Linked DNA regions of Homo sapiens: all the other regions are linked to region 2. The links come from fine-mapping of genetic effects on gene expression. A gene starts in region 2. Each other region holds a variant in brackets. All regions are shown on one strand. Distances are between the middles of the regions.

Region 1 (2,761 bases), 350 kb before region 2:
AAAAATTTTTGCTACTTGCTACTGCAAAATCTCAGTAGCTTAATACAATTTAAGTTTACTTCTCACTCACATTAGGTACAAGGTGGGAGTTCTTAGTTGATGGATGGTTTCCCTACATCTGGTGATTCGAGGACCCAGGCTCCTTCCATAATTGTTACTGTTTCCTTCAAGGCATAAATTGCTGTTTCCCAGTGTGTCAACACCTGTCCAGCAGATGACAGCGACAATATGTAGGGTCACCAATACATCCTCCTTGTAGGATGGGAGATTTCTATGGGCTAGGACTGGAAATGGTACCCATTACTTCTGCTCAAATTCTAGTCACTGGAACCCAGACAAATGACCTTGTCTAACTGGAAAGGAGGCTGAGATGTTAAGTTTAGCTGGGTGCCCAGAAAGAAGAGCAAACTGTTTAGGTGAACAGCTAATCAATCTCTGCCATACTCACTAGAAAGATTCAGACAATTAATACATACGGTGGAAGATCCTTAGAAGTTATCTATTCAAATTTAATGGACATTTATAAAATTCTCCACTCAAACAAAGCAGGATATACATTTCCGGGGAAGGCAGGAAATAGTTTGAACTGAGGAAAAATGAAAATACAACATATTATATCTACAGAATGTGGGTAGAGTGCTGAGAGGAAATTTATAGAATTAAAGGCTAATGTTGGAAAAGAAGAAATATTTTTTATTATACTTTAAGTTCTAGGGTACATGTGCACAACCTGCAGGTTTGTTACATATGTATACATGTGCCATGTTGGTGTGCTGCACCCATTAACTCGTCATTTACATTATGTATATCTCCTAATGCAATCCCTCCCCACTGCCCCCACCCCATGACAGGCCCGAGTGTGTGATGTTCCCCTTCCTGTGTCCAAGTGTTCTCATTGTTCAATTTCCACCTATGAGTGAGAACATGCGGTGTTTAGTTTTTTGTCCTTGTGATAGTTTGCTGAGAATGATGGTTTCCAGCTTCATCCCTGTCCCTTACAAAGGACATGAACTCATCCTTTTTATGGCTGCATAGTATTCCATGGTGTATTTGCTTAATCCAGTCTGTCATTGATGAACATTTGGGTTGGTTCCAGGTCTTTGCTATTGTGAGTAGTGCCGCAGTGAACATACATGTAC[A/G]TGTGTCTTTATAACAGCATGATTTATAATCCTTTGAGTATATAGCCAGTAATGGGATGGCTGGGTCAAATGATATTTCTAGTTCTAGATCCTTGAGGACTAGTTCTAGATCCTTGAGGACTCGCCACACTGTCTTCCACAATGGTTGAACTAGTTTACAGTCCCACCAACAGTGTAAAAGTGTTCCTATTTCTCCACATCCTCTCCAGCATCTGTTGTTTCCTGACTTTTTAATGATTGCCATTCTAACTGGTGTGAGATGGTATCTCATTGTGGTTTTGATTTGCATTTCTCTGATGGCCAGTGATGATGAGCATTTTTTCATGTGTTTTTTGGCTGCATAAATGTCTTCTTTTGAGAAGTGTCTGTTCATATCCTTCGCCCACTTGATGGGGTTGTTTTTTTCTTGTAAATTTGCTGGAGTTCTTTGCAGATTCTGGATATTAGCCCTTTGTCAGATAAGTAGATTGCAAAAATTTTCTCCCATTCTGAGGTTGCCTGTTCACTCTGATGGTAGTTTCTTTTGCTGTGCAGAAGCTCTTTAGTTTAATTAGATCGCATTTGTCAATTTTGGCTTTTGTTGCCATTGCTTTTAGTGTTTTAGACATGAAGTCCTTGCCCATGCCTATGTCCTAAATGGTATTGCCTAGGTTTTCTTCTAGGGTTTTTATGGTTTTAGGTCTAACATTTAAGTCTTGCCGATTCCCTTTCCATAAGTTCTATGCATTACTGAGAGAGGTGAAGTCTCAAACTATGCTTGTGAGTTTATTAATACTTTATTTCTGACAGTTTTTGCTTTATTTTTTAAGCTCTGTTTTTAGTTTTTATACACTTTGAATGTTATGTCTTCTTGGTAAACTGACTCTTATGGTTATGGAATATCCCTCTGTCTCTGGTAATTTTCTTTGCTCTGAAGCCTATTTTGATATTAATATAGTCATTCCAGCATTAGATTAAAGCTTGCATGGTCTATATTTTTCCATTCTTTTACTTTTAATCTGCCTGTATCATTATCATTATAGACAGCATATAATTGGATCATATGTTTGTTTATTCATTCTGAAAATCTCTGTGTCTTAAATGGGTGCTTAGACACTTTGCATTTAATGTAATTATTGATATGTTTGGATTTAGGTTTACCATTTTATATTTGATTTCTGTGTATTAAGCTCTGCTTTCCATTTCTTTATTCCTCTTTCCAGCTTTCTTTTGGGATAGTTGAACATTTTTTAAATATTCCATTTTTATTTATCTGTTATATTTTGACTATATCTCTTTGTTTTGTTTCAGTTTTGTTTCTCTGCTTATTTGTTTTAGTGGTTGCTCTAAGGATTACAGTAAACATATTTAATGTTTAAAAATCTACTTTTAATCAATGTTGTACGACTTGAAGTGGGACATATAGACCTTACAGGAATATACAGGAATCAAATAAACAAAAGAAGTGCAAACTTATACTCTGAAAACAACAAGCATTATTGAAAGAAATTTTGAAAGCTCTAAGTAAATGGGAAGACATCCTATGCTTATGGATTGCAAGATTTAATATTGTTAAGATAACTATACTACCAAAAATATTCTACAGATTCAATGCAGTCCCCATTAAAATTCCAGTTGCCTAT
Region 2 (2,761 bases):
GGTTATTTCCATATCAAATTTAAAGAGATACTGGAAAATAGAAAACAAAATCCATCAACTGTAATCCATTTCCCTTACTCTTTTGTGAAATCATCACAAGGTGTGAAGGATTGTTTCTGTTTCCTCTATCTTTAACAAGCCTGTAACCTCTCAAGTGAAAGAACATGCACCTGTCAAGCTCATAGTGCGGGATGTACACACAGATGTGTTTAATAAATATCTGCCCACAGGGAGATTAGAGGTTTGCTTTGAGAATCAGGGAACAGGCTAGCTCATGTGTTGACGCTTTGGCATCTATCATACAATCCGCCACCTCGTTCCCTTACCAAAATATCCTCAAAGGAAATCCTCTTTGAGTCTTTCAGAAGAGTTATGAGTTTGAGGACCCAAAACGTTGAGGAAAGATCCACCCCAGGGAAGGGGGAGTGGCTGCAGAGAACAAACATAAGTAGGATTTAGGTGGCTCAGTGACGTCAGGAGGAAGCAGCGATGGAAGGGATGGGGTGCAAACTCACCTGGAGAAGCAGAAGCTGCACACATGTCAAAGGTCAAAGGGCATAGCCTCAGGGACTCCCCAAACGCAGGAAAAGTGAAACGCCCACTCCTGGGCTCTCGCCGTCAGGGGTACATCTAAGGGCTCAGCTGTTCCTACCTTTGACGCCAGGGACAAACCCTACCAGGCACAGTTGGGATTGGCAGTAAGGCAAGGAAAGCCTGCCCCAGATTTCAGAGCCAGCGCTGGGGAATCTCCCTGTCCTCTCCGCCACCCCCTCCCGCGCCCGAGACCTGAGACACCTTCTCTCTCACACCCACCCTCTCCAGGCCCTCTCGCGCTGAACAGCATCGGTCTCTATGGCGACCTGAAACCGCAGCTCCCATTGGCCTGTTCAATATGAGGGCCGGGCCAATGGGGAGGGCCAGCCCTCTCCTTCCCGCCAATGGGGTGGCGGGAGCTGGCCCGGGGACGGCGGCGTGCTGACGTTCCCGGGAGCCCGGGGCTGGCCGGGCGGGAGGGCTGGCAGCGGGGCGGGCGGCGGCGGCGGCCTCTGGGCAGTAGAGGGGGCTCCGGGGCTGAGTCCGCGTCGACGCCGGCCGCGGAGGCGGCACCATGGGCAAGGGGTAGAGGGGCAAGTTGGCCACCGCCGCCGCCGGGGGTGGTGGGAGAGCCGCTCCGGGGGCGGGGGCCGGTGGGGGAGGGAGGGGCGGGCAGCCGCGCCGCCGCGGCACTTTTTTAATTTTTTCGGGTGCCGCAGCGGCGACCCCTCGGCGCCGATGTCCCTGATCCCTGGAGCGACGACGGCCGCTGCCTAAGCTGGAAAGTAAGTGTGTGGGCTCGCGGGAGGGCGCGGAGACTCCTGCCCACGAGACCCTCGGCCCTCGCCCCGAACACGCGCCAGGGCCAGGACCTGCGCGCCGGGGGCCGGGGGCCTCCCTCCCGCTGCCGCGTCCCCAGCGCCTCGCGGCCGCCGCGGCTTTCCTGCCCCGCCTCGTGTTCCTGCCCGCACTCGCCTGCTGCTCCCCTCCCCCCGGCAGGCGCACAAGTTTCACCCTCCATTTGCTTTTCCCGGCGATTCCTCTCCCCGGTCTCCCGTACGCGCAGCGCACGACCTCTGCCCACGCTGGGCTGTTCGGATTCAGAGCTCCCAGCCCCGAACTTGAGCGCCGCGCTGAGCCCTGCTGGACGCCCTCGCGGCGGCTTCCCCGCTGCCTGCCGCCGCGCGCCCCAAGTCGCCCTCGACACCACTGGGCGCCCGCCCTCCTCAGCACTCGGGGCCGGCTGTCTGTCCTTCTAGCCCCAGATCCTGCACCTTGGTCCCCTCCCCGTCTTCCCACGCCCCTGCTGCCCGCGCGGTCTTGCGTTTGTCCCCGAAGTCCTGTACTCCTTGCCGGTCCTGCCCACCCCTCTGCCTAGTGCGCCCCTCTCTACCGGCCGCGGATCCTCACGCTCCACCCCTCCCGGCTCCCCAGCGCCGAGCCTCGCCGCTGCCCTCCTGCGCCGCCGCTTCCTCCTCTCCCTGCCAGGAGTTGAAGCGGAGCTGCGGCACCTCCCTGGCGGATCTGGTATCCCCGCCCGCTGCCGAGGCTGCCGGCCCTCTCCCCTGGACCGCTACCCGGAGAGCGAGCGGCGGGGCCGGGATTTGGCTGCGTGTTGGCTGAGTGCGACACACCGCGAGCGCGGGCAGTGGAGGTGCCGCGGCGGCCGTGGCCGCTCGGGGCGCAGCGGTAGTCAGGTGTGTGTGTACAGCGGGGGACGCGCGCTGCCGGCTCCTGGGCTGGCGACAGATTGTGCAGGAATGCGAGGAATGCACCAGGGGCAGAGTCCACACAGCCCGCCGCGGCTGCCCTAGCGCCTTCCCTCCCCAGCTCTCGCCGCGCAGCCAGAGGTCACCGGAGCATCTTCGGAGCTGGTGAGCCTCATTCCACTCCTCTCCTCCCATAGCTTCCCTCCATGCGGCAGAGGGGAAGCGCGGTAATTCTTTGGGGCTCCAGCTAGCCTTTCGTCTGGGTTTTTGCTGCATTGGTCTTCAGGACCGTGAATTTGGGGCCGATGACTGTGTAGCCAAGGTTATTGATCATTGCACAGGGCTGTTGGCAAGTTTGGTGTGCAAGGTTTGGATAGTGCCTGGTTTTCACTAGGGTTTTCTGAAAACCAGCAGAAACAGGGGGCCTGAAGGTTGTTAGAGTAATGAGCTTGCAGCCAACATATTTTAGCTCTATCAAAAAATGCCTGTTAGTGCTCACGGGCATGTACTGCGAGAGA
Region 3 (2,761 bases), 340 kb before region 2:
CTTGGACTTAGATCGTGAGCCAAGTCTTAACTATCCATACCAACAAAGAAGAAAATTCTAAGAATTATCAATAACTAGTTTAAAACTCACCTGAAACCATGGTCTTAACCTCTTTGCTACCAGTCTTTATGGCAGACTTCTATTGCAGTTCATTACTAGCTTAAGGCTTCATCAGAGAAACTCATAAGAAGGCAGAGAAAAGACAATATTAAGGGTAGAAGAGAAGCAGAGGGCGTGGATACAGGGTTAATTACACCCCTAATTGAGAAAGAGAATAGCTCAGGAATTATTGCTAAATGGAAACAAGATGCATCATGTACTCAGACCACCCAATAGTTAGAGTAAATCATTTGTGAATGGGGCCGCCTATTCTATAACCTCAGTTAGGTATTTCGTTAGACAGATATTCTTTATCCCTGTGATGGACCTTGTCAGCCCTCCCAGTCCTCTGTCCAATGCTGCCTACATCAGCCAGATACCACCAACTGCCTTTTCCTCACTAGAGGACTCAAACCAGCTTCCTGTGTACTAAATTCTGCAATACAGGAAAAGTAACAAGCTCAGAAGCAGGAATAGAAAATTGCTACATGATATAAAAAATAATGGTTACCATTTGCACATCACTGAGAACGTGTCTGGACTTGTGCAATGTCCTTTGCCATATGCAATCTCACGTTCTTCTTTCAAAACTCTCTGAGAGGTACTGTGTTTTTCCTATTTTGGAGATGTTCTGAGGCACATCGATTATTTGTGTGACACTGAGCAAGTTTCTTACTCACTGATGGGGTTGGAGTTCAAAGCCAGGTTTACCTAACCTCAAAGGGCAGACCCTCCACTATGTTGTCTTCTCTCTCTCTGCATTTTCCTCACCACTTACTTCAGAATCCGGGAGGACTTGACTCTTGCCACCTTGCTGTGGCCTGTGCTTCCTCCTGGGTGTGAGAGTCTGCTACTGCTCACCCTCTTGTTGCTGACCCGTAGTGCTTCTCTGCTCCTCTCCCTGGCGTCCACCTCTCCCACTCCTGGTACCTGGGGCTAGGGTACCCCTAAACAGACTGTTGTATGAGTAACTGCCAGACAATTGTATTACCATCTTCTATTAGACACCGTTGACTGCAACACCTATCCTAATTTCAGAGAAGGTAAAATGTGAATAAAACAAAAACAAAAATAAATCACTGGAATTGATGAAATGCCACAGGGAGATCCCACATTTACAATAATAAGGCTTGTTCCATGAGAATTTCTTCTGAATAAGAAATTTAAAAGTCTTGACATGATTCCTTTAAAATTTTAAGTTCACATACTCCATTTCACAATACAAATTTATGATGGGGGATGGGGAATCAGAAAACATACCTAAAACTGGTGGTTCTCCTTTTGCTCTTACATCACTCA[C/T]GTGCCGTGGCCTCAGAACTTACATCCTAAGCATATGTCATGGTAATGCTCAACAATAGGCTGTCTATGTCAATTTAAGATGCTGGTTGGTGTTCACTATAAACAAAAACACCAGGAAACACCTCCTTGAATAATATCAACATTTATTTTGATTTTGTGATTTTCTTTACAAATTTAGTGCAAAAAACTTTGCATCTGTTGCTTTATTTACAGGTTGATGATGCAAATTAGCTAATTCATGGAACATAAACCATGACATCTACACGTGTTCTTAAGTAAATTAACTAAAAAGTAAAATAAAAACATTAGAGTTGAAACTGACCCGTGGTTCTTATCCCAGTTACTATGGCAGGCCCTTGTTTATTTTTATTAACAGTTTGTCTGTGTCGGTGGGAGCCCCAACAGAATGAAAGCATTTGCACTGTTTATGCACAAGGAGCTCGGGTTTGAGGAAGCTGAAGAAGACATAAAAGACATCTGTGCTGGGACAGACAGATACTGTATGTACAAAACCGGGCCTGTGCTCGCCATCAGTGTAAGTATCCATGGTTGCATTTCAGCTAGTCATTGCAGGCTAGAGAAAAAAGTGGGAACTTTTACATGTAGGAGTTCTTTTTCCCTCCAGCTTCGCATTCTTACACAATCAAACAAGGTGTCCAGGTATGAGTTCATTATTGGAAAAAGCCCCCAGGGCAGAACACAGCATGCAGCATCATTTTTGTTTATTAGTTACCACTTAGGTATTCAAATTAGGGGGAAAATACTCAAAGCACCCCTCCTTTCTCTTTACTTTGTAACTGGTTAACACCCCTCACCCCCGCCACGGCAATTTTCCTTCTTCTATCCCTTACCCAGCTTTGGGAATGTTGAGCTTTTAGTACACAGAGGCTAATTTTCAGGACTGCTAAAGTGCTGCTGTTTAACACCATAATAAGCTCGCTGAAAAGCTGCTAATGCATTTCTACTGAGCTCTTGTAAATTACTCTCCTGCATTTAGAACATGTGAACAGTTATGGAAGCACACAGTGCCCTAAGACAAAATGAAAGGGGAATGATTTGCAGTTTTAGGGAAGATGCAGACCATTTCCCCCTTGGACTCAGCTGGGCACACACTGATGAGGGCGTATGTGCATAGGCATCCCATTTGCCTTCCCATGTTTGTCTCTCTGCACAGGGCTGTATTCTGAAGCAATAACTCTGAAGCCATCACATTTCTGGGCACTGCAACCCTCAAAAGAGGCACAGGCAGGCATGCCAGGGGACAGGGGAAGAGTCTCCTGCACAGGGTGGCAATTCTAAGGAACTAAGCTGTAAGTGGCTCCTACCATAGGGAATAGGCATCATCCATTGATTGCCCTACAGT

Evidence for each region.
Region 1: its variant is fine-mapped to the expression of PKP4 in whole blood (TOPMed, PIP 0.98).
Region 3: its variant is fine-mapped to the expression of PKP4 in whole blood (INTERVAL, PIP above 0.99).

Annotation. Positions count from the first base shown.
Region 1 is chr2:158,109,323-158,112,083 of GRCh38, forward strand. The region is part of intron 2 of UPP2 (uridine phosphorylase 2); the gene reads left to right. Among named protein-coding and RNA genes, the nearest start is that of UPP2, 8.8 kb to the left of the region's middle. The variant A/G (reference allele first, on the strand shown) is at 1,140.
Region 2 is chr2:158,455,900-158,458,660 of GRCh38, forward strand. PKP4 (plakophilin 4) reads left to right here and starts at 1,053. Exons shown (of 22, transcript NM_003628.6): 1 at 1,053-1,319. It overlaps CCDC148 (coiled-coil domain containing 148), which reads right to left and starts at 854. Exons shown (of 14, transcript NM_138803.4): 1 at 516-854. The coding sequence starts at 540. LOC124907900 reads right to left here and starts at 2,235. Exons shown (of 1, transcript XM_047446754.1): 1 at 1,232-2,235. The coding sequence starts at 1,555. The coding sequence ends at 1,232. RefSeq lists silencers at 758-1,052, 783-1,152, 1,373-1,422, 1,673-1,722, 1,743-1,802 and 1 more and an enhancer at 2,333-2,412.
Region 3 is chr2:158,113,327-158,116,087 of GRCh38, forward strand. It overlaps UPP2 (uridine phosphorylase 2), which reads left to right. Exons shown (of 7, transcript NM_173355.4): 3 at 1,775-1,933. Among named protein-coding and RNA genes, the nearest start is that of UPP2, 13 kb to the left of the region's middle. RefSeq lists an enhancer at 43-1,242. The variant C/T (reference allele first, on the strand shown) is at 1,399.